Homo sapiens: one gene and its partners. The protein of the gene in region 5 purifies or fractionates together with the protein of the main gene of each other region. This does not show direct contact. Each region holds a gene or a part of one and is shown on either strand. Other genes may lie near its edges. The genes, in order: ATP6V1A, HADHB, OGDH, VDAC3, PCCB, NDUFS1 and AMZ2.

Region 1 (3,500 bases), about 23 Mb from region 5:
TTTTTTTTTTCTTTTCTGAGATGGAGTCTCACTCTGTTGCCCAGGCTGGAGTGCAGTGGTGCGATCTCTGCTCACTGCAACCTCCCACCTCCAGGGTGCAAGCGATTCCCCTGCCTCAGCCTCCCAAGCGGCTGGGATTACAGGCGCCTGCCACTATACCCAGCTGATTTTTGTATTTTTATTAGAGATGGAGTTTCACCATGTTGGCCAGGCTGGTCTCAAATTCCTGACCTCAGGTGATCCACCTGCCTGCCTCCCAAAGTGCTGGGATTACTTTGTGTGAGGCACTATGCCTGGCCTAAATCCTTAAATTTTGAAATATAGAAAGTGGCAGGAAATTGAGCCAAAAAGGATACAAGTTTCTTCATACACCTGAATAGTAGCCATGTCACCCTCCAATCGAATAATCTCTCCAACCAATTCGCTGTGGCCCACTCTCACCAGCTCATACATGGCTGCACCCGCCATGTCACAGGCTGTAACCACTGAAGAGAACAAAAGACTATTTTGATGACTTAAGACTCTAGTGCTCTGTGAATAGTCACAAATAATTAAAACACCCAATAAACCCAGTATTGTGCCTCTCTCATATATTCATAAGAAGGATAAAAACCTACTATGGAACATACTGGTAGTTTCACATAGATATATATTTTAGTGTATAATATAAAGAGGTAAGCCAAAGATTATTTATTTACATAATATACATGAAAACTTTTCAAACATTTCAAGTTCTGCATGGCAAACTTACCTGGTAGGATTCAGGTATGTTCTGAGAGTTGCTATGATACATGGAGTGAAGGCTTTGGAACAATAAAAAAAACTTTTAAAAGTAGAAATTGGAATAAATGGTTTGGCTAGTAGTATGGTAGAATGCCACACAATTATCACTTCGCTGTGCTGTTACCATTTCCTTTGAGAGACAGACCTAAAGCAACATGTTTACTTTCTAATAACTTATAGCAGTAGTTCTTAAAACTCTTCTGGGACATGGACCCTTTTCAAAAACTAATAATAGCTCTACTAGAAAAACTCACACACACATCTACAAAATTTTTTTCATAGGCCGTAAGGATATTTATAATCAGTCACCACCATTGGGTAAGAAATTGTCAATGGAATTCCATTTACTGAACTTACTATTTTGGACCATGTGGTCTAGTAAGCAAAAATTACTTTTCTAGCAGGGAAGGAAGGTTGCCATATTTTTAGACACGTGTAAGAATAAACCAATTTTTAATATTTAGCCTTCTGATACAACTGATTAGAACTATGTTATAGGTAATACTTCAGTGGAAACTATTAAAGCTTTATGAGTTAATTAACCTGTGTAAAAACAATGAAGACTTATTCATTCTATAAATATTTACCTCTATGCCGACTACTTAAGAATTAAGATGCACTGAAATACCAGAGATAATGAAATTTAAAAATCATATTTCATAAGCCAAAAAAGGATGCCATTGTTCCATTACCTTATTAAGTACTTAAGAATTAAAAATTGCAGGAGGCAAGGGGAGGGAGAGCATTAGGACAAATACCTAACGCACGTGGGGCTTAAAACCTAGGTAACAGGTTGATAGGTGCAGCAAGCCACCATGGCACATGTATACCTATGTAACACACCTACACTTTCTGCACATGTATCCCAGAACTTAAAGTAAAATTTAAAAAAATTTTTAAAATAAAATAAAAATTGTTTCCAGGAGCAGTTTACTACACAGTTTCACAGAATATTTTTTCCTAAACTCTCTGATGTTCTTTTGCCTTTTCTCTAAAGGTTCTTGGGTTTAGTCTGTCCATCCTGAAGACCCTTATGATCATTGAGAGGACAATTATTTCTCTGCATGGCAAAAGATACTGATAACCTTTTAATGACCTGCCAATGAAATCAAGCTCAAACACCAAGTTCTTGGGGGAGAAAAAAGAGGCACAGTGACTGACAGTCTTCATTTGCGTAAACATCAAAAAACTGTCATCACCACTACTCTAACTAGAACAAGAAAAAGACTATATAGCATGAGGTTTTAAGGATAATACATCACTGACCAGGTTTTACTTAGAGAAACTGTGACTGTGAATCACATTGTGTAGTGGGAGTATTCAATAACAAAACAAATACTGGCGTAAGATTTATTATTTAAAAAGCAGCACTCCATGTTTTGGCAGAATGGACATAAAGTTTGGGTCCTAAGACTTCTTTCCCACAGGTAGTTAATAATGTGACACTTAAAATAACCATTCAAAAAGTTTCATAAATGCAAAGGGCAAAAGCTAATATTGCTGAGAAATGCTCTGAGCGTTTGAATTATTAAAGTTCAAAGCAAATTAACATTTACTGAATGCCTGCTATATGCAAGGTATTACATATTAAAAGCTATAAACTTCATAGTTTATTTACCTCAAATTTAACAAAAAATTAAGACATATAAAACTGAACACTGGTTGAACATTTACATAATTATAAACAGGATATCACAAAGTAGTACCTCAATAATTATAAAATTTAGATAATCAATGCTAGATGAGCCCTTATGACAGAGATTCTACTTCGGTCTTATAGTCACTATGAGATCGCCTAAGGACAAACAGAATTTATGCAGGTAAACAGAAAGTTGTATATTTCTATGTAAAATATTTTGAAAAGACATTAATCAAAGTTAGATATCCTTATTTTGAGATTATGATGTATTACTTACCAGGTCCTGAGACCCCATGCACATAACCAAATGTGCTTTCTTTATCTTCATCGAGTATTTTGGGTAGCTTGGAAAAATCCATAATGTTAGTTTACCTATAGTAAATAAATAAATAAATAAGTTATAATTATAAACCGTAAAGCAAAAGACCCAAAATATAGGTAGTCCACTAAGATGAGACCACTCTCATCTTTGGTGTATTCTTGAGTTATTATACTTCTTCAAAGTAGAATAAAAAAATTCCTTTTCTTAATTTAAAAAAAATTTTTAAGAGGCTCTCTGTCACCCAGGCTGGAGTGTGGTGGTACAGTCATAGCTCACTGCAGCCTCAGACTCCTGGACTCTAGCGATCCTCCTGCCTCAGCCTCCCAAGTAGCTATGACTACAGGTGTGTACCACCATGCCCAACTAGTTTTTTGTTTGTTTGTTTGTTTGTTTTTTTGAGACAGAGTCTAACTCCACCACCCAGGCTGGAGTGCAGTGGAAGGATCTCTGCTCACTGCAACCTCTGCCTCCCGAGTTCAAGCAATTCCTGTGCCTCACCCTCCAGGGTAGCTGGAATTACAGGTGCACGTGACCATACCTGGCTAATCTTTGTATTTTTAGTAGAGACAGGGTTTTGCCACGTTGGCCAGGCTGGTCTCAAACTCCTGACCTCAAGTGATCCACCCACCTCAGCCTCCCAAAGTGCTGGGACTACAGACGTGAGCCAGCCACTGAACCCAGCCAAAATTCCTAAAATGTAGTTAAAAGTACCCTATTCCTGGATGCTGGATGGTTTTATCACAACTGAATTATATC
Region 2 (3,500 bases), on a different chromosome or scaffold from region 5:
TATTAACTAGTTCCTAATCACTTCTATTTCAGGAATGGGCCCTCTTGCACATGGGAGAAGAAGATATTCATCAATAGAGAAGCATTTCACAAATTGCAAATTTAAAGTTAACTTTTGGTTCCATAGCAGGTCTCAAGAGCATTTGTATGCCATTCACCTCCAGGACGGACAGCAAGAGGATAAATAAACTGACCAACGAGGTTTATGGAACCTCCATGACTCCAGCAGGTTCAAATCCCAGAAAACAGCCTCCCATTAACATCCTCAAGCCTAATCCTAAATAATGTAGTATCATTATTGATTGGACCTATAATTTTTTAATTTGAAGGCAACAGAGATGTTCATGTGCTCATAAAAAGGGGAGAATTAGCAAATTAGTTTTGGTTTTTATTCAGAGTTCACAAACTATAGAATCTGGAATCTAACATTTAAATCAGAAATATTTATTTTACAAATTACTGTACCTGGGGCAGCTCGTAGCTGGGAGGAACAGCTCAGAGGTCTTATGGCTGGAAGACAAAATAAACTGTTTACAAAAAGCAATACCATTCAGTATCTGTGCGAGATGTTTATAAATCCAAATCCAATCTCTAAAAATAAAAAAATAATAATAAACTTACAAAATCTGAGGGCCCATTTTGATGCAGTGGGAAGATTTTTAAAGGGGTAAGTCAAGATAGTCATTCTGGAATCTAAAAAGAGAAGAACAAAAGTATATCCTGGATTAGCTGAACAATTTGTAGTTTACATTGTAGTCTATGAACTCTGATAACCTCATCCATGGCTACTAGAAAACATTAAAACTTAATCTTATCAACTATTCTTCATCTAATAATATTATTATGATAGGAACACCAACATGGTTTTCACATTGCAGCAACCACTATTCTAAGCATTAACCATCTAATCTTCACAATGACCTACAAAGGAGGCATGATTATTACATCCTTTGTAAGAGATAAGGAAATTGAGGCATAGTAGGATTGAGTGACTTGCCAAAAGACCTACAACTAGTGAGTGGCAGAGCTGGAATTTTTATTTATTTATTTATTTATTTATTTATTTATTTATTTATTTATTTTTTTGAGATGGAGTTTTGCTCTTGTTGCCCAGGCTGGAGTACAGTGGTGCAATCTCGGTTCACTGCAATCTTTGCCTCCCAGGTTCAGTCGATTCTCCTGCCTCAGCCTCCCGAGTAGCTGGGATTACAGGCACGTGCCACCACACCCGGCTAATTTTTTGTATTTTTAGTAGACATGGGGTTTTGCCATGTTGGCCAGGCTGGTGTCGAACTCCTGACCTCAGGTGATCCATCGCCTTGGCCTCCCAAAGTGCTGGGATTACAGGCGTGAGCTACCGCACCAGGCCCAGAGCTGGAATTTGAACCTAGGAAGTCTACCTCTAGAGTGTGTGCTCCTCTCCTTTAGGGTCAAAGAAGCAGAGAGACTGCTAGGCGTGATAATAAAACCATTAGTATTAGTTTCACGATTCTGAAGGCTGTACTATGATTATGTAGAAGGCTTTGTGGAATGTTTGTATCTGAAGGGAATATACACTAAATAGGGATGGTGAAGCATCATGTCAGCAACTTAATCTCAACTGCTACTAAAAAAAGTTTGTAGTACTGCACTTGCAACTTTTTCAAAGTTTGATACTGTATTGTTTCAAAACAATAAAAAAGTAAAACATATAATAACCCTATATGTTAAAAAATATGTAAAATATATTAACAACTTTCCCCCACCCCTCCAAAAAAGACTAAATTTCTAACAATGAGTTCCTACAGATTACTAAGGAAAACACTAGCAGACAAATAGGCACAGAATATGAACAGACCACAGAAAAGGAAATACAAATGGTTCTTAAGTATATGAAAAGATGTTCAATTTCACTCATAAGAAGAATTCAAATTAAAACCACAGATATAATTGTCTCTCAAAGTAGCAAAGATTCAAAGGTTTGATATATACTCTGTGTAGGTAAGAGTATGTGCAAATAGATATTCTCATATACTGCTGCCAAGAGAACTGGCACAGTCCATGGGGAGGGCAATTTGGTAATTATCCATGAAAACTATAACTGAAACTAATGTTTGAACCAGCAATTCCACTTCCATGAACTGACTTCATGGATATTACTCACACACAGGACATAATCCATATTGTTACTGTAATAGTCAAAAATTAGAATAACCAAAAAATAGGAAAATGGGTAAGTAAACCATGCTACAACACCCCTGTGAAATACTATGCAGCTGTAAAAGGTAAGGAAATGATTATGCACCAATTCGGAACCATTTTAAGCTGTATCATTAAGTGAAGAAAGCAAGGTGCAAAATAGCTGTACAGCATGCTATCATTCATGTTAAAAGAGGAAAAATATTATGTACATTTCCTTGTATCAGTATAAAATCCCCCTGGAAGTATAATAAAGATGTTAAAAATAATTGTTGGCTGGAAGAAAGGGAACTGGGTAACTAGGGGTCAGGGGTGGAAGACTTGTCATCACACACCTTTTATAATTTCTTAATTTTGAAGCATGTTTTAACAACAACAACAAAAAATCAAAACCAAAAAAATCCCACAAGATTTACCAACAAAGACTTTGGTAGCCAGCCTCCAAGTTGCCCCCCAATAATCTCTACCTCTTGGTATTCACATCCTTGTCTAGCTGCCTCCCTCTCCATATCACAGAATGTATAAACCAAAAAGTATGTTACAAGTAATGGTATGCCACTTCTGAGATAGGCTATAAGAGATACTGCAGCATCTGTCGTGGTCTCTCTCTCAGCTCACCCACTATGAGAGAAGCCAGGTGGCATGTCCTGAGCAGCCTTATGAAGAGGCTCCTGTGGTGAGGAACTGATGCCTCTTGCCAACAGCCATGTGAGTGAGCTTGGAAGCGGAGCCTCTAGCGCAGGCAAGCTTTCAGCTGACTCCAGCCCTGCCAACATTCTGACAGCCACCTTATGGGAAACTCAGAGCAACCCAGCTAAAGTGCCCTTGATTCCTGACCTTCAGAAACTATGAGATGGTAAACATGTATTGTTTTAAACTGCTACATTTGGCGGTAATTGGCTACACAGAAATAGATAATACAAAAGCTTTAAGGTTTAACTTCTCTTGGGTCTTTAGAGACTAAAAGAAGGAGGTCCTATAGCTTCCGAAAAGAAAAAAACAAAACATGTTCCAAACATGTGGATTGGAAAGAGATGGAGAAGCCCAAGCTTTAGGATCACCAGCCTAGGGATATTCAAAGGACTCTGGCCAGAGAAACACAAAGAGGCCCATGAGAGAGGCACCACTCAGAAGCTACTTACAATGCCACAAGGGTCTGGGCTACAAGTTCCCTTACGTAAGGTTCATCTTGAAATAAAATTCATGAAAATTGTCAAGAAAATGTTGAAAAACAAAAGGGGGAACCTTGTTGCAACAGATAACAAAACTTTCTAGGCCAGGCACAGAGGCTCACACCTGTAATCCCAGCACTTTGGGAGGCCG
Region 3 (3,500 bases), on a different chromosome or scaffold from region 5:
CTTGGCCTCTGCCAGGGCTCACCTCTCTTCCAGAGCTCAGCACACCCCCTATGACCACCTGTTCAAACATCCGTCCTCCCCACCGGGCTGGGGCCTGCAGCCTATGTGATTGCTCCGCATGTGGTGCTCAGCAGTATGCAGGGGCCCAGTCGGGGAAGAGGACACACAGAACACGCAGTTCCCTCATGGCAGCAGTGAGGAGGAAGGGCGAGGCTCCCTGACACCATGTCCTGTCCACACTACCCCTGCAGGTGCCCACCTAGCTAACCCCAAGCAAGAGGCTCTCTGAGGAGCCCTTCCCTGCACCAACAGGGCAGGGCCAGGCCTCGTTTGAGCAAGGGAGGCCCTGCCACTGACCGGCTTCCGGAATGGCAGCAGGATCTGGCGTCGTAGCACGTGGAAGAAGTTGCCAGGAGTGGAGCAGTTGACAACAACCCAATTGCAGTCATATAGCTGATTGATGTCGAAGTTGGCTTCTTTAAGGTCCTGCAGCAGGGAAGGAAATGGCCAGAGGCCAGGACACAGCACTGAGTCTTCTGGGGCATGTGGGGGCCCTCAGGTGATCTAGTTTGGATATTTGTCCCTGCCCAAATCTCATGTTGAATTGTAATCTCCCACTGCTGGAGGTGGGGCCTGGTGGGAGGTGTTAGGATTAGAGCTTGGGCCATCCCCTTGGTGATGAGTGAGCTCTCACTCTGAGTTCACACGAGATCTGGTTGTTGAAAGTGTGTGGCCCCTCTCCCCCACTCTCTTACTCCTGCTCTGGCCATGTGACATGCCTGCTCTCCCACTTCATCTTCTGTCATGATTGTAAGCTTCCTGAGGCCTCCCCAGAAGCTGAGCAGATGCCAGCATCATGCTTCCTGTACAGCCTACAGAACTGTGAGCCAATTAAACTTTTCTTTATAAATTACCCAGTCTCAGGTTTTTCTTTATAGCAACACAAGAATGGCCTAACACACTGACTCCCCAGGAGACATAAGCTGACACTAACAAGTGAGTCCAGCAAGCTCCTTCGGCCAGCCTCATACCCTGGAGGAGAGCCTCAGTCCCACTCAATCCATACTATTTCTCTGAAAGCTATTGCCCAGCATGAAACAAATACCACTTTAAGAGACACAAGTTCTACCTAAAACCAATTTTCCTTAGACACTGACACCTAATCATTTTCTTTGAGTTTTTTTTTTTTTTTTTTTTTTTTGAGACAGGAGTCTCCCTCTGTCGCCTAGGCTGGAGTGCAGTGGCGCAATCTTGGCTCACTGCAACCTCCACCTCCCGGGTTCAAGCGATTCTCTGCCTCAGCCTCCTGAGTAGTTGGGACTACAGGTGCCCGCCACCACGCCTGAATAATTTTTGTATTTTTAGTAGAGACGGGGTTTCACTATATTGGCCAGGGTGGTCTCAAACTCCTGGCCTCGTGATCCACCTGCCTGGGCCTCCAAAGTGTTGAGCTTACAGGCGTGAGCCACTGCGCCTGGCCAGTTCTTTTTTTGTGAGACGGAGCTGCCCAGGCTGGAGTGCAGCGGCACAATCTTGGCTCACTGCAACCTCTGCTTCCCGGGTTTAAGCAATTCTCCTGCCTCAGCCTCAGACTAGCTGGGATTACAGGTGGGCGCCACCATGCCCAGCTAGTTTTTGTATTTTTAGTAAAGACAGGGTTTCACCATATTGGCCAGGCTGGTCTCAAACTCCTGACCTCATGATCCGCCTGCCTGGGCCTCCCAAAGTGCTGGGATTTCAGGCTTGAGCCACCACACCCAGCACAGTTCTTTTTTTTTTTTTTTTTAAGACAGGGTATTGCTCTGTCACCCAGGTTGGAGTGCAGTGGCACGATCTTGGCTCACTGCAGCCTTGACCTCCCAAGCTCAAGCAATCCTCCCACCTCAGCCTCCCAAGTAGCTGGGACTGCAGGCGTGCACCATCACGCCCAGCTACTTTTTAAAATTTTTGTAGAGACGGGGTCTCACCATGTTGCCCAGGCTGGTTCTTTGAGTTCTTAAAGTTTCACTGGAATCGCCCCAAAGTTCTCTCCTCCTCAGGGCTTCCAGACCTGAATCAGGGTCTGGAAGCATCCCGCAGGAGCCCTTGCTGAGGAGCTCACATGGCGTTTCTGTGCTTGCAGCAACAGCAGGAAGCCAATGGAGGCAGTCCCTGCACCTTCCTCTGTGCTCTGAGGAAGTCTCTCATCCCAGGGCGCCCAGAAGCATGGGGCCACACCTGTCCACTCACGTGAGCTCCCCAGGATGGAGAAAGGGACAGAGGCACGGTCTGCCACTTCAGGATGACCAGATAGATTGCTCTTCCCCAGGTTTCCCACCAGACACCCCGAGAATGGCTGGGCTGACAGGGCCTGTATTACTCACTGGCAGGACATCTGGGTCATCGTTGCACATCTGCAAGAACCGCTCTGGGCGGGCGGAGGAATGTTCTGGACCCTGGAACCACACACGCAAGTTACAGTTTAAGAGCTCTTGCGTACTGACATTTGCCGCATCTGCTGTTCCTCCTCAACCAACTAGCTCATTTCTGGTTATCTTTTTTCTTGATGGCAGGGTTCAGTTCCTTCCCCCTCCCACCAGCAAAGCACTTGGCTCATCATTTCCACACTTGGACGCCTGTGCATCTAGGGAGTCTGCACCAGCAGGGACGGGGCATGCTAGCCACATCCAGATGGGCTACTCTGGCTTTCTGAAGTGACATCCCATCTGAGATGGATGGGAAGCACCAGCAGAGTCCTTAGGAGGCTGGTGTGAGCCACTGGCTCTCGTGCCAGTCTTTGGGGTCAGGGTCCTACACAGGCCCTTCCCAAGTCCTAGGTCTGGCAGGGAAGGGCCAGAGGCTCACCATGCCCTCCATGCCATGGGGCAGCAGCAACACGATGCCATTCTGCCGCACCCACTTGGCTTGTCCCGGGCAGATGAACTGGTCGATGATACACTGGGCCGTGTTGTGGAAGTCACCAAATTGGGCTTCCCAGAGGACCAGGGCATTAGGACTGGCCATGGCGAAGCCCAGCTCAAAGCCTACAAGGGACAAAGGAAGGAGAAAACCATGTCCAGGACACCAGCCAGTAGGCCCAGCGGGGGTGGGTGGGTGACAGGCCCTGGTGGTGTGGCTCCAGGCACTCACCCAGCACGCCGTACTCAGACAGTGAGCTGTTGCACACAGTATAGGGGGCCTGATTGGGCCAGAGATGGTTCATGGGGATGCAGGTTCTCTTGTCCACATTCTGGTCATGGAGCACATGGTGGCGGTGGCTGAGACAGGACAACAGAGGTAATAATTAGGAGCTCTGACTTGACAAGCAAATACGCTGGGGACCCGCACGAAGCACCAGCAGATGCCATGCTCTGTGACCTGGACTTCTGGCCAGGCAGCTGCAGGGTCGGCCCCACCCAGGTCTTAACAGAAGCACCCATAGCAAATGAGGGACAGAGGTTTTCAGCCTGAGAGCAATGTGACTCTTCCGGTTTCTAACCGTCTTCCGGAAAAGAAACACC
Region 4 (2,279 bases), on a different chromosome or scaffold from region 5:
ATAACACTAATCGCCACATGGAGTGGTTGTGAGCGTTAAATGACATAATATACATAAAGCCCTTAGCACAGTACATGAAATTTAACAGCTCAGTGTTATTTTTAGTAAGAGTTACTATAGCAACAGAAATAGTCATCTAATCCCATGAATTTCCAAATAAGAAAATTCTGAGGCCAAAGTGATAAAATGACAAGGTCAGACAACAGATATACAGGAAGAGCTAGGACTAGAAGAACCCCTATTTCCTGACGTCAAGCATAATTTTTTTTTTTTTTTTTTTTGAGATAGGCTCTCGCTCTGTCACCCAGGCTGGAGTGCAATGGTGTGATCTTGGCTCACTGCAACCTCTCCATCTGCAGGGTTCAAGCAATTCTCCTGCCTCAGCCTCCCTAGTAGCTGGGACTACAGGCGTCACCTACCACGCCCACCTAATTTTTGTATTTTTAGTAAAGACAGGGTTTCACCTTGTTGGCTAGGCTGGTCTTGAACTCCTGACCTCAGGTGATTCATGCACCTTGGCCTCCCAAAGTGCTGGGAATACAGGCGTGAGCCTGGCCACATTATATTCCTTTCACTACACAATGAGCTGGCTTATTAAAATTAATAAAGAACAAGCAAACTACACTCATATCACAACATTCTCTGAAAACTTAGACACAAACATAAGAGCAGATCCAATCTGGCAGCACATTCTTACAGAGAGAGAAGTTCTACAATCCAGCATGTACTTAGCAGCAATGCCAAAACGGGTGTTGTTACTCCCAGCTGTCCAAGCAAGGTTTATGGATGTTTCAATCTTCTCATTCACCTTCTGGTAGATAGAACCTCCAAATTCAGTGCCATCGTTCCTGTTTTCATAGATAAGAAAACGTCATAAATATCTAGTTTGTACCATTGTTATTATGGTATGAAAACAAATTCTAAGACTATCTAAACAAGGATCCCATTTTGTAACTATAGATTTCAGCAAATTTCTAGCATAAATGACTACTAAACAAAACACAGAACTAAATCCAGCTATGCCAGTAATGACTGCTTAATTAAAACGTTAACACTTGATCCATTTACTTGGCTCCTCCACATGATGTGAGTTTCTTAAGACAATTCAATTAAGCACAAAGGCAGACACCTCGGGTAAGTATAATCTATAGGTCTCTGAGAAGTTCATAGAACTTAGAAACTTCAAAGTAGAGTTCAATAAAGATTCTGCAAAAAAATAAAAAGGTAGAGGTATAGGAATAAAACCAATTCTGGATTTCCTTTAAAACACAATCCTACAGTTAGAAAGCACCCTCCTACGATACCTAGGGTGCACTGCTCCAGAAAACCACCTTAGTTATTGCTTCCAAGCATGCCAGAGGTGAGTCCTTGGGTTTTCACATGGTTTTCCTGATAATACTGTTTCATCAATTTCAGTAACTGTCTATACCACTGCTTGCCTTTGTTTTAGCCATCATAAGTAAATTAGAGCATCTAGCAGAGAGGAATCTGCAACAGTTTAAAAACACATAGTTTGCCCTTTGCTTTTTCTTCCTGGTATAGTAGCAGTGTCCAGTAGGCTCAACATAAAATACTACGTAAAAGTTCTGATTCATCCCACCAACATGGTGCAGCCTACATAACTGAATCCCAGGACTCTTTCAGAGCACCTGTTACTTCTGAATGCATTAGCGGTACCTGGGTTCCAACCGAGAATACCAGTACCTGAAACCTCCACAGAATTACCGGGATGTCCCAGGATGCTCAGATCAATTTGGTGGTGGTTGTTGGTGACCAAAACAGACCTGCTTCCAGATACTGTCAAGATGAGAGGGCAGCAGAGGAAGCAGTAACATCTCCAAAGGGTCATCTTACCATGAGGTAAGCCATGCTCTGGGCTCCCTCTATCCCAGTGGTTCTTCTACAGAGGCTGGAGCTTCCTCAAGTTTGGGGTGCAGGCTGAGGGGCCAGTGACCACCAGCAGCACAGCCTGCACACCACGTGCACCAGCCTCCTGGCAAGGTTTTGCTATGAGGATAGCACCGCAAGGATGGATATTCACCAAGGCATGCTAAATCTGAGTACCATCACTTCTCAGCATGCTAATGGCTACAATATTTTGGGCAACTGCACTGATACTAAGGAATAAATTATAAACACTCACACATGTGTGTGCAGCTGGAAGTCCGCAGCCTTGTAACCCAGGGCGAAATTATTCTGTGACAGTTTGGATTTGGCTGTGTCAAAACTCATCTGATAGCCAGCAAGCCACCCTTCGAAGGCCAACACAGCCCAGCCAT
Region 5 (3,500 bases):
CCCAGAGGTGTGAAATAAAAATCAGCTCTAGATGATAACACTGTGTACTATTTTTCTTTCTAGTTGTATTGATTTTTCAGATTTCCACCTAAAAAAATCGAATTTATGCTCAAAAAATACAACTTAAAATGTTTAAAAAAGTAAATAATTTTACAGTAAGGCACAAAAGAGATCTTTCTAGAATTTAATAAACTTAGTTATTCTAAGTTATCCAACTATTTGGATTCCCAGGTTTCATGATTGCAAAAGGCAGGAATGGGATGTGAATGGGCAGACAGTAATTCAGTTCTTGGTTTCTTTTCCTTTGATTTGTTTACAATGGAATATTTGCATGTTTTCTCCAAGGACGTTGTACCTTCTTGCTGGCCAAGACATCCAGGTCACAGCAGATTCGGGCACGTGTGGAAGAAGGTTGGATGATGTCATCCACAAACCCTGGTGAAGCACAGAAAAGGGAGTGGATCATCTGCATCCCGAGATGATGCCACCCCTCAACCTTCTGCTCAGCCTGGGCACCATCCCTGGGGCCAGCAGTATAAGCAGTGCCCAACCTGATACAGAGATGGTAGGCCCTGTGAATTCCCCCTTGTATCCCAGGAGCTGGCCTGTTCTGACAGCTCCCCAACTTCTGGCCTAGGAGCACTTGGCAAGAAAAGGAAAATCGGACACCCTCCCTATACCCTGCTTGCTCCAATGCCTCCATCCTGCCACAATGAATTCAATAGGAAATAAAGAAAATACATCTAGGTTTTCAAAAATGGCTATAACAATTCATCCTTGTACACAAGTCCTGCAATGTGACTTTACCACTTCTCTCTTCAAGAGGTGGATTTGTATTCCTTCGCTTAACCTTGTTGAGTTTTCTTGGCCTATAAAATGTGGCAAAAATGACACTGTGCAACTTCCAAATCTAGGCCTCAGTTTCCCTTTGCCCCCTTGCTACTCTCGGGACACCATGTAAGGAAGCCTGGACTAGCCTCCTCAAGGGTGAGAGGCCACGTGGGGAGTGAGTCTAGCTAACAGCAACTACCAAGTAAGTGACGCCATTTTGGACTGTCAAGCCCCGGTCAAGCCACAGAATGACTATACCTGTGTGGGTGATCCCAGGCAAGACCAGCACAAGAACCACTCAGCTGGGCCCAGACCAAATTGTGGACCCCACAGAACCATAAGCAGTGGGGGAAACGGTGGTTAGTTTAAGCTGTTGAGTTATAGGGTGAATTTCTGCACAGCACTAGACAACTGGAACAACACCTAGAAATTTAATACACTTTGGCAATGTTGTTTTAATTGTGGTTACCAAAGCAGCCTGTCCCACAGTCCTTAGTCCAAGTGATGACTGCCCAGGGACAGTCCCAACCCTCACTAGTCAACAGATTAGACTGCAAAGGCAAAAAGGCAGTTATGTGACAATTTCTGTAGAGAAAGAATGAGCAAGTTGACCAAACAAACAAAGCTGCCCTCTTCACCACAGTCCCCTACCTCGCACTGCTGCAGGGAAAGGGTTGGCAAACTTCTCGATGTACTCTGCCTGAGCAGCTTCCACATTCTCATGCCCTTTGAAGATGATCTCCACAGCGCCCTGTGATTAGAGGAGTTCATGAACATCTTTGGTCGTCCCAACCTGGACAGATCTCCTTCAACTCATTATCACTGTGTGTGGGTGCAAATTTCTTGGTAAATCAGTGTACTGAGGGGAAGTGCCATCTCTAAAGGCCATAGCATAGAGGGAGGAACTGCCTGGGGCTGACCATCATGACACAAGGGGCTGCATGATGGGATGTGATGCTTCCCTGTGGCCCCAATAAGGGGCAGTCAGGCAAAAGCCAGTAGCTTCTCTCCCCAGAGCCCATTCTACCATCTCCATTTGCACTCATCATATTTCTTTGAGCCAAAGATGTTAGCCCTGTTTTCCATTATTAAATCCATGGTCTTGTATCAAGGGGAATTAAATGTGCTATTTCCCTTTTTCGGTACCCTAAGACCTGAGTATACAATTCGGTGGCCAGAGGCGACCAGACTGAACTGGAAATTAGAAGGATTGGCCTTCAAGTCAGAGCACCTATAAGTCAACTCTAGGGGACCTGGAAGTTATCTGATTCGACCACAATAGCTACTTCAAAGCAGGGAGGAGTGAGGAATAGGTCAAGCAATAGGAAGTACCTTGTCCAACGTCACTAGGGTCGGACCTACAGTTTAGCTTCTTATGAGCTTAAAAGAGTAGCTCTGGGGCCCTCCCTGGAAGCTGAGGTGGAGCTGGGAGAATGTCCAATACTTCTGAAGGTGACTTCAGTTGACTCAACCCTTTGCCCCCTTTACTTACAATCTCAAAACCACTCTGGACCCCTCTCACTTTCCTTTCACCTGCCGCACCCACCTTGGCATGAAGACACCAGCGTGGGCCTGAAGAAAGGGTATAGGACAGGAGGCAGAGCTATCTCTGGAGCCCCAAGAGGGAGACTTACCAAGGTCTAGGTCCCATTCACCTCAGTCCTGGCTCAACCTAGGGGCCCTGGCCTCTCTCCAACATTTCCCAGCTATGCCTTGAGCTCTCGCTGGTAGAGTCGAGTCCTTGGACCCAGAAAGGGAAAAGCAAGAGGCCCTCACCTTTGCTCCCATGACTGCAATCTCTGCGGTGGGCCAGGCATAGTTGGTATCACCACAAAGGTGCTTAGAGCTCATGACATCATAGGCACCTCCATAGGCCTAAAACAGATCCAAATGCTGAGTGTTAGAGCCTGAGACAGCCAGATCATGTCCCTGAAAGACCCCAGGAAACCAGGTAAAATTGGGACAAAGAACAAGAATAGCCCTACTGGGCTCCTGAAGGCCCACGGTCTGTAAGACCTTTCAAAGTTAATGCTCATTATCTTTTCTGGCTTTTTCCCACTACTGCCTTCAGTTCCCCTGTGTTAAAAAAGCACAGACATTTCTGCGGGGCTGGGAACAACATCCTCAAGAGATCTTTTTAAGGATGAGCAAGGTGTACTCCTTCCAGCCCTGGTAAAACTCTGCCAGACCTCCCACCACGGCTATGCTGTAGGAAAGTGAGCAGGGTCATGGCCTCCAACATGAGGTCCTCACCTTCCTGGTGATGACTGTGACTTTGGGTACAGTTGCCTCAGCAAATGCGTAGAGAAGCTTGGCACCATGCCGGATGATGCCCCCGTATTCCTGTGCTGTGCCTAGACATGAGGAAGAGTTACTAGATACCCACAAGTCCTCACATGGTTATCCTGCCACTCTCAGCTGTGAGGTCTTTCCCACCTCTGGAGAGGGCCATTCCTTACACAGCCCTATCTTCTGGACACCCAGAATACATGGAGAAGTCACAAGTCCTCGGGGAGTTCTGCAAGAAGATCTCCAAATAAAGTGGGCACCTTACTGGGAAAGGCAACTCTCCTAGCCCCCACTCTGTCAAAAACTTACCAGGTAGAAAGCCAGGGACATCAACAAAAGTGATGAGTGGAATATTGAATGCATCACAGAATCTGACAAAA
Region 6 (3,500 bases), on a different chromosome or scaffold from region 5:
CTGTTAGGAATGCTTGCCGCAATTACCACTACAAACTTAGGCTGGTAAAATCTTGGCTATCCTCAGCTACGATGACCTCCAAAGTATCACCTCCACAAACAAGTTTGCCTCGTGCTCCAAGTTAAGTGAGTTGTCTCCATCTGTACCAAAGAAGTTCTCATCTTCACAGCCTGCCCCGGCCTCGAAGAAATTCCATTTTGAGGGGGTGGAGAGGAGCATAGGAGGAGCACTGAGCCCAGCCACCAGTTTTTCAGTGCATAAAAGCTTCCCACATTGTATGTGTTTAGATTTCTAAACTGCTGAAATGGTGGGTTTTGTCATTTTTGGCCAGCTTTACTTTTGCTTTTCAGTGGGAAGGTTTTTTGAGCTCCTTAATCTCCCATAGACAGAAATCCTGCCCCTCTTGTTGAATCGTCCCAGATTTGGCTAGTTGGAGCCCCTTCAAACTAGCTTCTGTGTCAGATAATAGTTTTAAAGCCTTCCTTACTGTGCCAGGAATTTATGTGTTCAAATGTGGGTGTGCCGGGAGCAGTGGCTCACACCTATAATCCCAGCTTTTAGGAGGCCAAGGTGGGAGGATTGCTTGAGACCAGTAGTTCAAGACCAGCCTGGTCAGCATAATGAGACACCGGCTCTACAAAAAATTTTTAAAATGTGGTGAGAGGATAGTTTGAGCCCAGGAGTTCTAGGCTGCAGTGAATTATGATCATGCCACTGTAGCCTGGGCAACAGAGTGAGACCCCAGGGCAAAAAAAAAGGTGGGGGGTTCTTTTATTTAATTGCAGTTCCTCTAAGCTTCATTTTTTAAAGTAATTCAGAAAGGGAATTAATTGTAAAAAAAATTTTTTGGTAAACCAGGTAACAGAAACTTTCTTTATTCCCAAAAGCACCATAGTAAACACCGTATGTGTTTCTCAGAAAGACAGAATCCATTGATGTAATGGATGCGGTTGGAAGTAATATTGTGGTTAGCACAAGAACTGGAGAAGTGATGAGGATTTTGCCACGTATGCATGAGGACATCAATGAAGAGTGGATCTCTGATAAAACCAGGTATATGCTATATTGTTTTCCTTAACTTTTACAGTTTATTTAAAGGAAATTTTATAATAATTTTGAAGAATTATCTTTTATATTTGCAAATTAGTTACTGAATATAGACTACTGGAATCTGAGTTGCTTATATAATGTGATAATACTGACTTTAATAGTCCTAGGTCAATCCCTGGATATTGTATTTACTTTGAGAAAGATATTTTTTCCTCCCACATGGAGAAATTCAAGTAGATTGATACATTCTCAACTTATTTCAGTTTGTTCATTAGAGAAAAGAAGCTAGGCTGGGCGCAGTGACTCACACCTGTAATCCCAGCACTTTGGAAGGCCGAGGTGGGATGATTGCTTGAAAAAGAAGCTGAATAGAAGAGTTTGCACAATATAATTTTGATAAAATATTTAGAGATACTCATGCTTTGTAAATAAAAATGATTTGACTTTTTTAGCTGTCAGATTTTTTTGTGTTGTAATTTTAAGATTGTTCAGTTAGCTGAAAGTATAAGAAATCAAACTTTTTTTTGTATGATTTAAGGGAAGAAATCAAACTTTCAGATGGTATTTTAGTTTTAGGTGAAGTTCATAAAATCTATTAGTTCATCTCTAAAAATATCTGGAATAATTACTTGTATCTAGGTGTTTAGATATTTGACACTTTAACCAGTACTGTATTTAAATAACATTTCTTGTTGATTTAACTTGAAAATTATAGTTACTTCTTTAGCAAGATTCCACAATGGTGTAATTTCTGTTTTCTAGATTTGCCTATGATGGGCTAAAACGTCAAAGACTTACCGAGCCAATGGTCAGAAATGAAAAAGGGCTTTTAACCTATACTTCTTGGGAGGATGCGCTCTCTCGCGTAGCTGGAATGGTAAAATTTGAAATAAATAGTGTTAAATAGTGTTTGTGATTATCAAGAAACATCTTTGCCATGAAGGGGGGGATGTATATTTCTTCCCTTTTTTACTTTTACCAAGATTATGATTTAATCTCCTTCCATTTTACAGACATCTACTGAGGACATATGCTAGATATTATGCTATTAAGGGATATAAAGACCAGAGACACATCATTCCTGCATCCTACAATCTTGTAGTAGAGAAAGTTGCACAATTCAGCAATTATTATATGCAGCTATGAGTAATTATATAAGGAGTAATATGAGTGAGAGCACGTAGGAGGAATGCCTAACTAGGACAGGCATATCAAGATGCCTTCCTTGGAGGTTGCAGTGAGCCGAGATCGCACCACTGCACTCCAGTCTGGGTGACACAGCGAGACTCCATCTCAAAAAAAAAAAAAGCTGCCTTCCTACAGAAGGTGATTCTTAAAGAAGAATCTGAGAATGAATATAAGCTTGCCAGAGTACAAGTGGAGGGAATAGTTTTCTTGTTAGAGAAAGACAACATAAAGCACTAGAGGGAAAGGCAGATACTTCAGAGGAGGTCGCATTTAAGGTAACTATAGTTCCACTTCATTCTCCAGACCTCATTTTGAAGTGCCTTTGTTCCTAAATATAAAACAGCTTCCTTCTAAGTTGATGTTATTAGCTGTGGCCCCACATAACACCTCTGCAGCTTTTCACTTTTAGATTAATTAATAATTGTTGTACAACTTTTTTTGTGTTTTTGAGATGGAGTTTTGCTGTTGTCGCCCAGGCTGGAGTGCGGTGGCGCGATCTCGATCTCGGGTCACTGCAGCCTCTGCCTCCTTGGTTCAAGCAGTTCTCCTGCCTCATCCTCCCGAGCAGCTGGGGATACAGGCGTATGCCACCATGCCCAGCTGATTTTTGTATTATTAGTAGAGATGGGATTTCACCATGTTGGCTAGGCTGGTCTTAAAGTCCTGACTGCAGGTGATCCGCCCACTTCTGCCTCCCAAAGTACTGGGATTACAGGCATGAGCCAGTGTGCCTGGGCATGTTGTAAAACTTTTAATCAGAAGTCTGTTAACTTTTTTTGTACTTGAAAACAAGTACTGTTTTATTTTCTGAACATTTCATTGTGGTCTTTGCTGCGTGTAGGTTTCTTGGTGATGCCCTTTTCATCTGTTTCTAGTTGCAGAGTTTTCAAGGCAAAGATGTGGCAGCAATTGCAGGTGGCTTGGTGGATGCTGAAGCCCTGGTAGCTCTCAAAGATTTGCTTAATAGAGTGGACTCTGACACCTTATGCACTGAAGAGGTCTTCCCCACTGCAGGAGCTGGGTGAGAAATATGAAGCTAGGATCTAGGCTTTCCTTTCTTTTTTTAGTTACAAGTTATGTATAAAATGTGACAACCTGGATTCTCCAACATATCCCCCAGTTTATTTTCATATATAGACCAAGATCAAACCAGAAGTTGTAGGAAATAGAGGAATCCACTTATCACTAAGTATCTCAGGCACAGTGGCTCACGCCTGTAATCCCAGCACTCTGGGAGGCCAAGGCAGGCAGATCGCCTAAGT
Region 7 (4,181 bases), on a different chromosome or scaffold from region 5:
TGAGGGTGGATATGGGCACTGGGTTCAAAGGACAAATTTGGAGAATTCATGATCCAGGAGAGTGAACAAATAAGGAAGGGCTAAAGAGATCCTCGAAGTTGAAAGGTTCAGAGTTAATGTCCTCTAAGGAGAGCCAACAAGGGGTTACAAATGCTGAAGTCATCAAGAAAATGTGCCTGTCTTTCCTTGAGACTGGGAAGGAGAATTAGGATGACGAAAATCCAGAGGATGGTAAAATAGCTTGACTTCAAAATAACAGGCCGGGCGCCGTGGCTCACGCCTGTAATTCCAGCACTGTGGGAGACCGGGGTGCGGGGGGGTGGATCACCTGAGCGCAGGAGTTCGAGACCAGCCTGGGTAACAGGGTGAAAACCCGTATTAAAAAAAAAAAAGCCGGGCGCGGTGGCCCACGCCTGTAATCCCAGCACTTTGGGAGGCCAAGGCGGGCGGATCACTTGAGGTCAGGAGTTCGAGACCAGCCTGGCCAACATGGTGAAACCCCATCTCTACTAAAAATAACAAAAATTAGCCGGACGTGATAGCGGGCACCTGTAGTTCCAGCTACTGGGGAGGCTGAGGCGGGAAAATCGCTTGAACCCAGGAGGCAAAGGTTGCACTGAGCCCAGACTGTCCCACTGCACTCCAGCCTGGGCAACAGAGCAAGACTCCGTCTCCAAAAAAAAAAAAAAAAAAAAAAAAGCAAGAAAAAGAAAGAGAATGGCGAGGCCCAGAGAGACCGAAAGTCCCACCAGAGGGTACAGAGCTAGCTCAGCCCTAATGCCGGCCCCGCGGTGCCTTTCCGAGCTCACGGCCTCCCCTCAGCATCCGGGTTTCGGCCTCGGAGCGCCAGGGACGCCACGAGGACGCGCCCCACACTTGCGCTTCTGGGTTCCAGCCCCCGCGGCCCCCAACAAATAAAGAAGGGAAAGTGCTGAGGGTGACGGCCCCGGGGAGCGCTGCGGCTCTACGTCAACCTGCGGCGGCCGCCGACTCATTTGGGGCCACGCTGGTTGCATTCGTCACGCCGGCGATGCCTCTCAAACCCGCGGCCTGCCGAGGACGTTCCCACACGGGAGACCCCAGCGACGCGGGCGCATCTGTGGCTCTCGAGAACCGGGCCGCGGAGCCGCCGCGAGCGCAAGCGAGGAATCGGCGACTGCGGGGGTGGACAGCTGGGGCTTGTAGTCCCCTCGCTACCCTCTATTCTGGAAGAGGCGGGTCGCGGCCGCTGAACTCCAGCTCTGCGCCTGCCCAGGCGGCCGCACGCTCAGGGGCGTGGCATGGGTGGGTCGTGAGTTGGGCGGGGCCCACAGGGCGTGCGCGACGCAGCGGCGCGGCGCGTGGCGTAAGGGGCGTGGCGCCAGTGGGCGTGGCGTGGCGCAGTGCGAAGGGACGCGGTGCGCATGCGCGTGAGGGCTGCCGCGGGTGGGTGGTATCGAGGCCTGTCGGGTCAGGGCGGTTCGCGGGTGCTGTCAGAGCTGGGCCGGGGCCCCTAGGCAGGGTAGCCGGGTCGTAGAGGCGGGGGCCGGTCGCGGTCGGTGGAGCGGGATGAGGATGTAGGAGGGGCGGACGTGGCGGAAGCCGCGGGGTCCGCGGGGTCGGTGCCTCTAGGGAGCCAGGGAGGCCTTTCCCGAGGCTCCTGGGGAAGAAGAGGCGAAGCGAGAGTCCCTGGGGAACCCCCACTCCACTCCCAGCTGGAGACTGGGTTGTGTCTGCATGGACCAGAGCCCACAGTGCGAGTTGCTATAGGCAACCAGCCAGGGTGGCCAGCTCCTTCCCGTTTGCCCGTGATGTTCTGGTTTTGGGACCAAAGCATCCTAGGCCTCCAGCCCACTGCAGTGACCGAATTCTGCGCCCCCTGCCCATCTTCTCCCGCAGCTTCCCTAGATTAGGCTTGGGAGGCAAGAGGAGGCCTCCTGACCTTTCACACTGCCTTTTTAATATTAAGATGAAGTCACACTCCACAACTTTCTTCCAGCCAGGCCCAGACATGTCCGTCCTTGTAAGTTAAAAGCTTCCATGGGAGCCTTCCTTCCTAATCAAGGTAGGTAGACTACAGGAAGGTACATCTTGTTTTATATTTTGTCCTGTAGAAGTCAGATTTCAGCCCAGTTGTGTAGGAGTGAGGATGAGCCTATGCTTATATCAGAGCTTTGAGTACAGAGACATTTGGTCTGGAATTTTAGTCAGCCTCTTCAACCCCAGAATTTATAGGTTCAATCAGAACAGACATTAGCTTAAGTTTTCCCATCAATCGTCTATCATTAAACTGGCAAAATCTAAATAATTAGAAAATATGACAAAGATGATCCAGACAGAGATGTTCAACTTTTTCCTTAATTCAAAAAGCCTCGTGGTGGAACATCGGACCCATTCAAGAGGAAGGATGAAAGCTCTATATAGGAACACGATGTGAATGGAAGAAACCTGTCATTGTGAGGCTGGCTTTTGATTAGTCATCTGATGTCTTCCCTAATGTGACATGACTTTGAGGCCATAAACTTCAGTGGCTAAGCTGTAGTTTCTCAGCCTGCAGTTAAATTGCAGAAATGATAGGGCTTACATTAGTTTTGTTTTTATTTGATGTTGAAGATCTTTGAGTCACATTAGAAACGATGAGTATTTTTCATGTGGCACTGATGAGTTAATTCATATTATTATTTTTTGAGACAGAGTCTCTATTGCCCAGGCTGGACTGCAGTGGCACGATCACGGCCCACTGCAGCCTCGACCTCCTGGGCTCAGATGATCCTCCCATCTTAGCCTGCCAAGTAGCTGGGACTACAAGTGCACATCACCACATCCGGCTAATTTTTTTGTAGATATGGGGTTTTGCCATGATGTCGAAGCTGATTTCAGACTCCTAGGCTCAAGTAATCCTTCTGCCTTGGCCTCCCAAAGTGCTGGGATTATAAGCGTGAGCCACTGTGCCAGGCCAATATTATTCCCCAAAAGAAGGAAGTTGGGTGTGAGGTCCTGCTCCTGTGGTCACCGTGAGGTTTTTTTTTTTTGTTTTGGACTCTTGCCCAGGCTGGAGTGCAGTGGCACAGTCATGGCTCACTGCAGCCTCAAGCTCCTGGGCTCAAGTGATTCTCCTGTCTCAGCCTCCCTGGTAGCTAGGACCACAGATGTGCACAACTATGCCCAGGGAATTTTTAAATTTTTTGTAGAGACAGGGTCTCACCATGTTGCCTGAGCTGTTCTCAAACTCCTGGCCTCAAGCAATCCTCCTATCCCAAAGTGCTGAAATTACAGGCATGAGCCACCACACCTGGCCACCACTAGTTTTTGTAATGGGAGCAGGTTCCATATGAGATGGAGGAATGGATTTCATGATTGTCTTTTTAATTTCTTAGATCTCCAAGAAATTGGACATGAGGAAACCACTCTAAGTGTGACCACTCTAAAGCATTAGCAATCAGTCATTTCACTCTAGGGAGAAATCAGAGCTGAAATATAGAGGATAGGTAAAGTCCCCAATGTAGATATGTATTTTTATATTTGATTACTTGCTTTTTTTTGTTAGATGCAAATAATACGGCACTCCGAACAGACACTAAAAACAGCTCTCATCTCAAAGAACCCAGTGCTTGTATCACAGTATGAGAAATTAAATGCTGGGGAACAACGTTTAATGAATGAAGCCTTCCAGCCAGCCAGTGATCTCTTTGGACCCATTACCTTGCATTCTCCATCAGATTGGATCACCTCCCACCCTGAGGCTCCCCAAGACTTTGAACAGTTCTTCAGTGATCCTTACAGAAAGACACCCTCTCCAAACAAACGCAGCATTTATATACAGTCCATTGGTAAATACTGGTAATGTGCTGGTTTTGGTTCAGTTTTGCAGTGGCGCTCTTGTCAGGAATAGTCCAGGCTATGGGTCTGATTCAGATGGGCCGTTTTAGGATCGTTTTTGATATTCATTGCGGCGGTACAAGTTTTGTAGCCAAACTGACTTAAAAGATAACATTTTGTTTCTTTTTGTTTCATAGCAACACCAATGAATGATAAAGGTTATTGAAAATTTAGAGTTGGTTTTGTTTCTAATTTGAATCTTCTTACTCATAGACTGGGTAAACACTGAATAATCATCTTAAAGTCTGTTTTTAAATGTTCTTCCATATTGTAGGCTCTCTAGGAAACACCAGAATTATCAGTGAAGAATATATTAAATGGCT

The links.
Region 1: the proteins of PCCB (region 5) and ATP6V1A fractionate together in Homo sapiens (co-fractionation; one large-scale study listed by BioGRID). This does not show direct contact.
Region 2: the proteins of PCCB (region 5) and HADHB fractionate together in Homo sapiens (co-fractionation; one large-scale study listed by BioGRID). This does not show direct contact.
Region 3: the proteins of PCCB (region 5) and OGDH fractionate together in Homo sapiens (co-fractionation; one large-scale study listed by BioGRID). This does not show direct contact.
Region 4: the proteins of PCCB (region 5) and VDAC3 fractionate together in Homo sapiens (co-fractionation; one large-scale study listed by BioGRID). This does not show direct contact.
Region 6: the proteins of PCCB (region 5) and NDUFS1 fractionate together in Homo sapiens (co-fractionation; one large-scale study listed by BioGRID). This does not show direct contact.
Region 7: the proteins of PCCB (region 5) and AMZ2 purify together in Homo sapiens (affinity purification with mass spectrometry; one large-scale study listed by BioGRID and IntAct). This does not show direct contact.

What each region holds. Positions count from the first base shown.
Region 1 is NC_000003.12:113,778,035-113,781,534, reverse strand, and holds part of ATP6V1A (V-type proton ATPase catalytic subunit A), read right to left. Parts: intron 2,795-3,500; 5' UTR 2,782-2,794; coding exon 2,700-2,781; intron 486-2,699; coding exon 357-485; intron 1-356. UniProt on the Homo sapiens protein: Catalytic subunit of the V1 complex of vacuolar(H+)-ATPase (V-ATPase), a multisubunit enzyme composed of a peripheral complex (V1) that hydrolyzes ATP and a membrane integral complex (V0) that translocates protons.
Region 2 is NC_000002.12:26,251,439-26,254,938, reverse strand, and holds part of HADHB (trifunctional enzyme subunit beta, mitochondrial isoform 1 precursor), read right to left. Parts: intron 693-3,500; 5' UTR 685-692; coding exon 621-684; intron 510-620; coding exon 465-509; intron 1-464. UniProt on the Homo sapiens protein: Mitochondrial trifunctional enzyme catalyzes the last three of the four reactions of the mitochondrial beta-oxidation pathway.
Region 3 is NC_000007.14:44,697,127-44,700,626, reverse strand, and holds part of OGDH (2-oxoglutarate dehydrogenase complex component E1 isoform 1 precursor), read right to left. Parts: intron 3,258-3,500; coding exon 3,130-3,257; intron 3,024-3,129; coding exon 2,845-3,023; intron 2,436-2,844; coding exon 2,364-2,435; intron 487-2,363; coding exon 358-486; intron 1-357. UniProt on the Homo sapiens protein: 2-oxoglutarate dehydrogenase (E1o) component of the 2-oxoglutarate dehydrogenase complex (OGDHC). Participates in the first step, rate limiting for the overall conversion of 2-oxoglutarate to succinyl-CoA and CO(2) catalyzed by the whole OGDHC.
Region 4 is NC_000008.11:42,401,880-42,404,158, reverse strand, and holds part of VDAC3 (non-selective voltage-gated ion channel VDAC3), read right to left. Parts: coding exon 2,144-2,279; intron 1,207-2,143; exon of another isoform or gene 1,069-1,206; intron 849-1,068; coding exon 698-848; intron 1-697. UniProt on the Homo sapiens protein: Non-selective voltage-gated ion channel that mediates the transport of anions and cations through the mitochondrion outer membrane and plasma membrane.
Region 5 is NC_000003.12:136,326,840-136,330,339, reverse strand, and holds the end of PCCB (propionyl-CoA carboxylase beta chain, mitochondrial isoform 1 precursor), read right to left. Parts: coding exon 3,430-3,500; intron 3,186-3,429; coding exon 3,085-3,185; intron 2,707-3,084; coding exon 2,608-2,706; intron 1,583-2,607; coding exon 1,483-1,582; intron 436-1,482; coding exon 314-435; 3' UTR 171-313; downstream 1-170. UniProt on the Homo sapiens protein: This is one of the 2 subunits of the biotin-dependent propionyl-CoA carboxylase (PCC), a mitochondrial enzyme involved in the catabolism of odd chain fatty acids, branched-chain amino acids isoleucine, threonine, methionine, and valine and other metabolites.
Region 6 is NC_000002.12:206,142,445-206,145,944, reverse strand, and holds part of NDUFS1 (NADH-ubiquinone oxidoreductase 75 kDa subunit, mitochondrial isoform 1 precursor), read left to right. Parts: intron 1-918; coding exon 919-1,053; intron 1,054-1,812; coding exon 1,813-1,927; intron 1,928-3,113; coding exon 3,114-3,259; intron 3,260-3,500.
Region 7 is NC_000017.11:68,246,662-68,250,842, forward strand, and holds the start of AMZ2 (archaemetzincin-2), read left to right. Parts: upstream 1-1,381; 5' UTR 1,382-2,044; intron 2,045-3,524; exon of another isoform or gene 3,525-3,526; coding exon 3,527-3,809; coding exon of another isoform or gene 3,810-3,819; intron 3,820-4,132; coding exon 4,133-4,181. UniProt on the Homo sapiens protein: Probable zinc metalloprotease.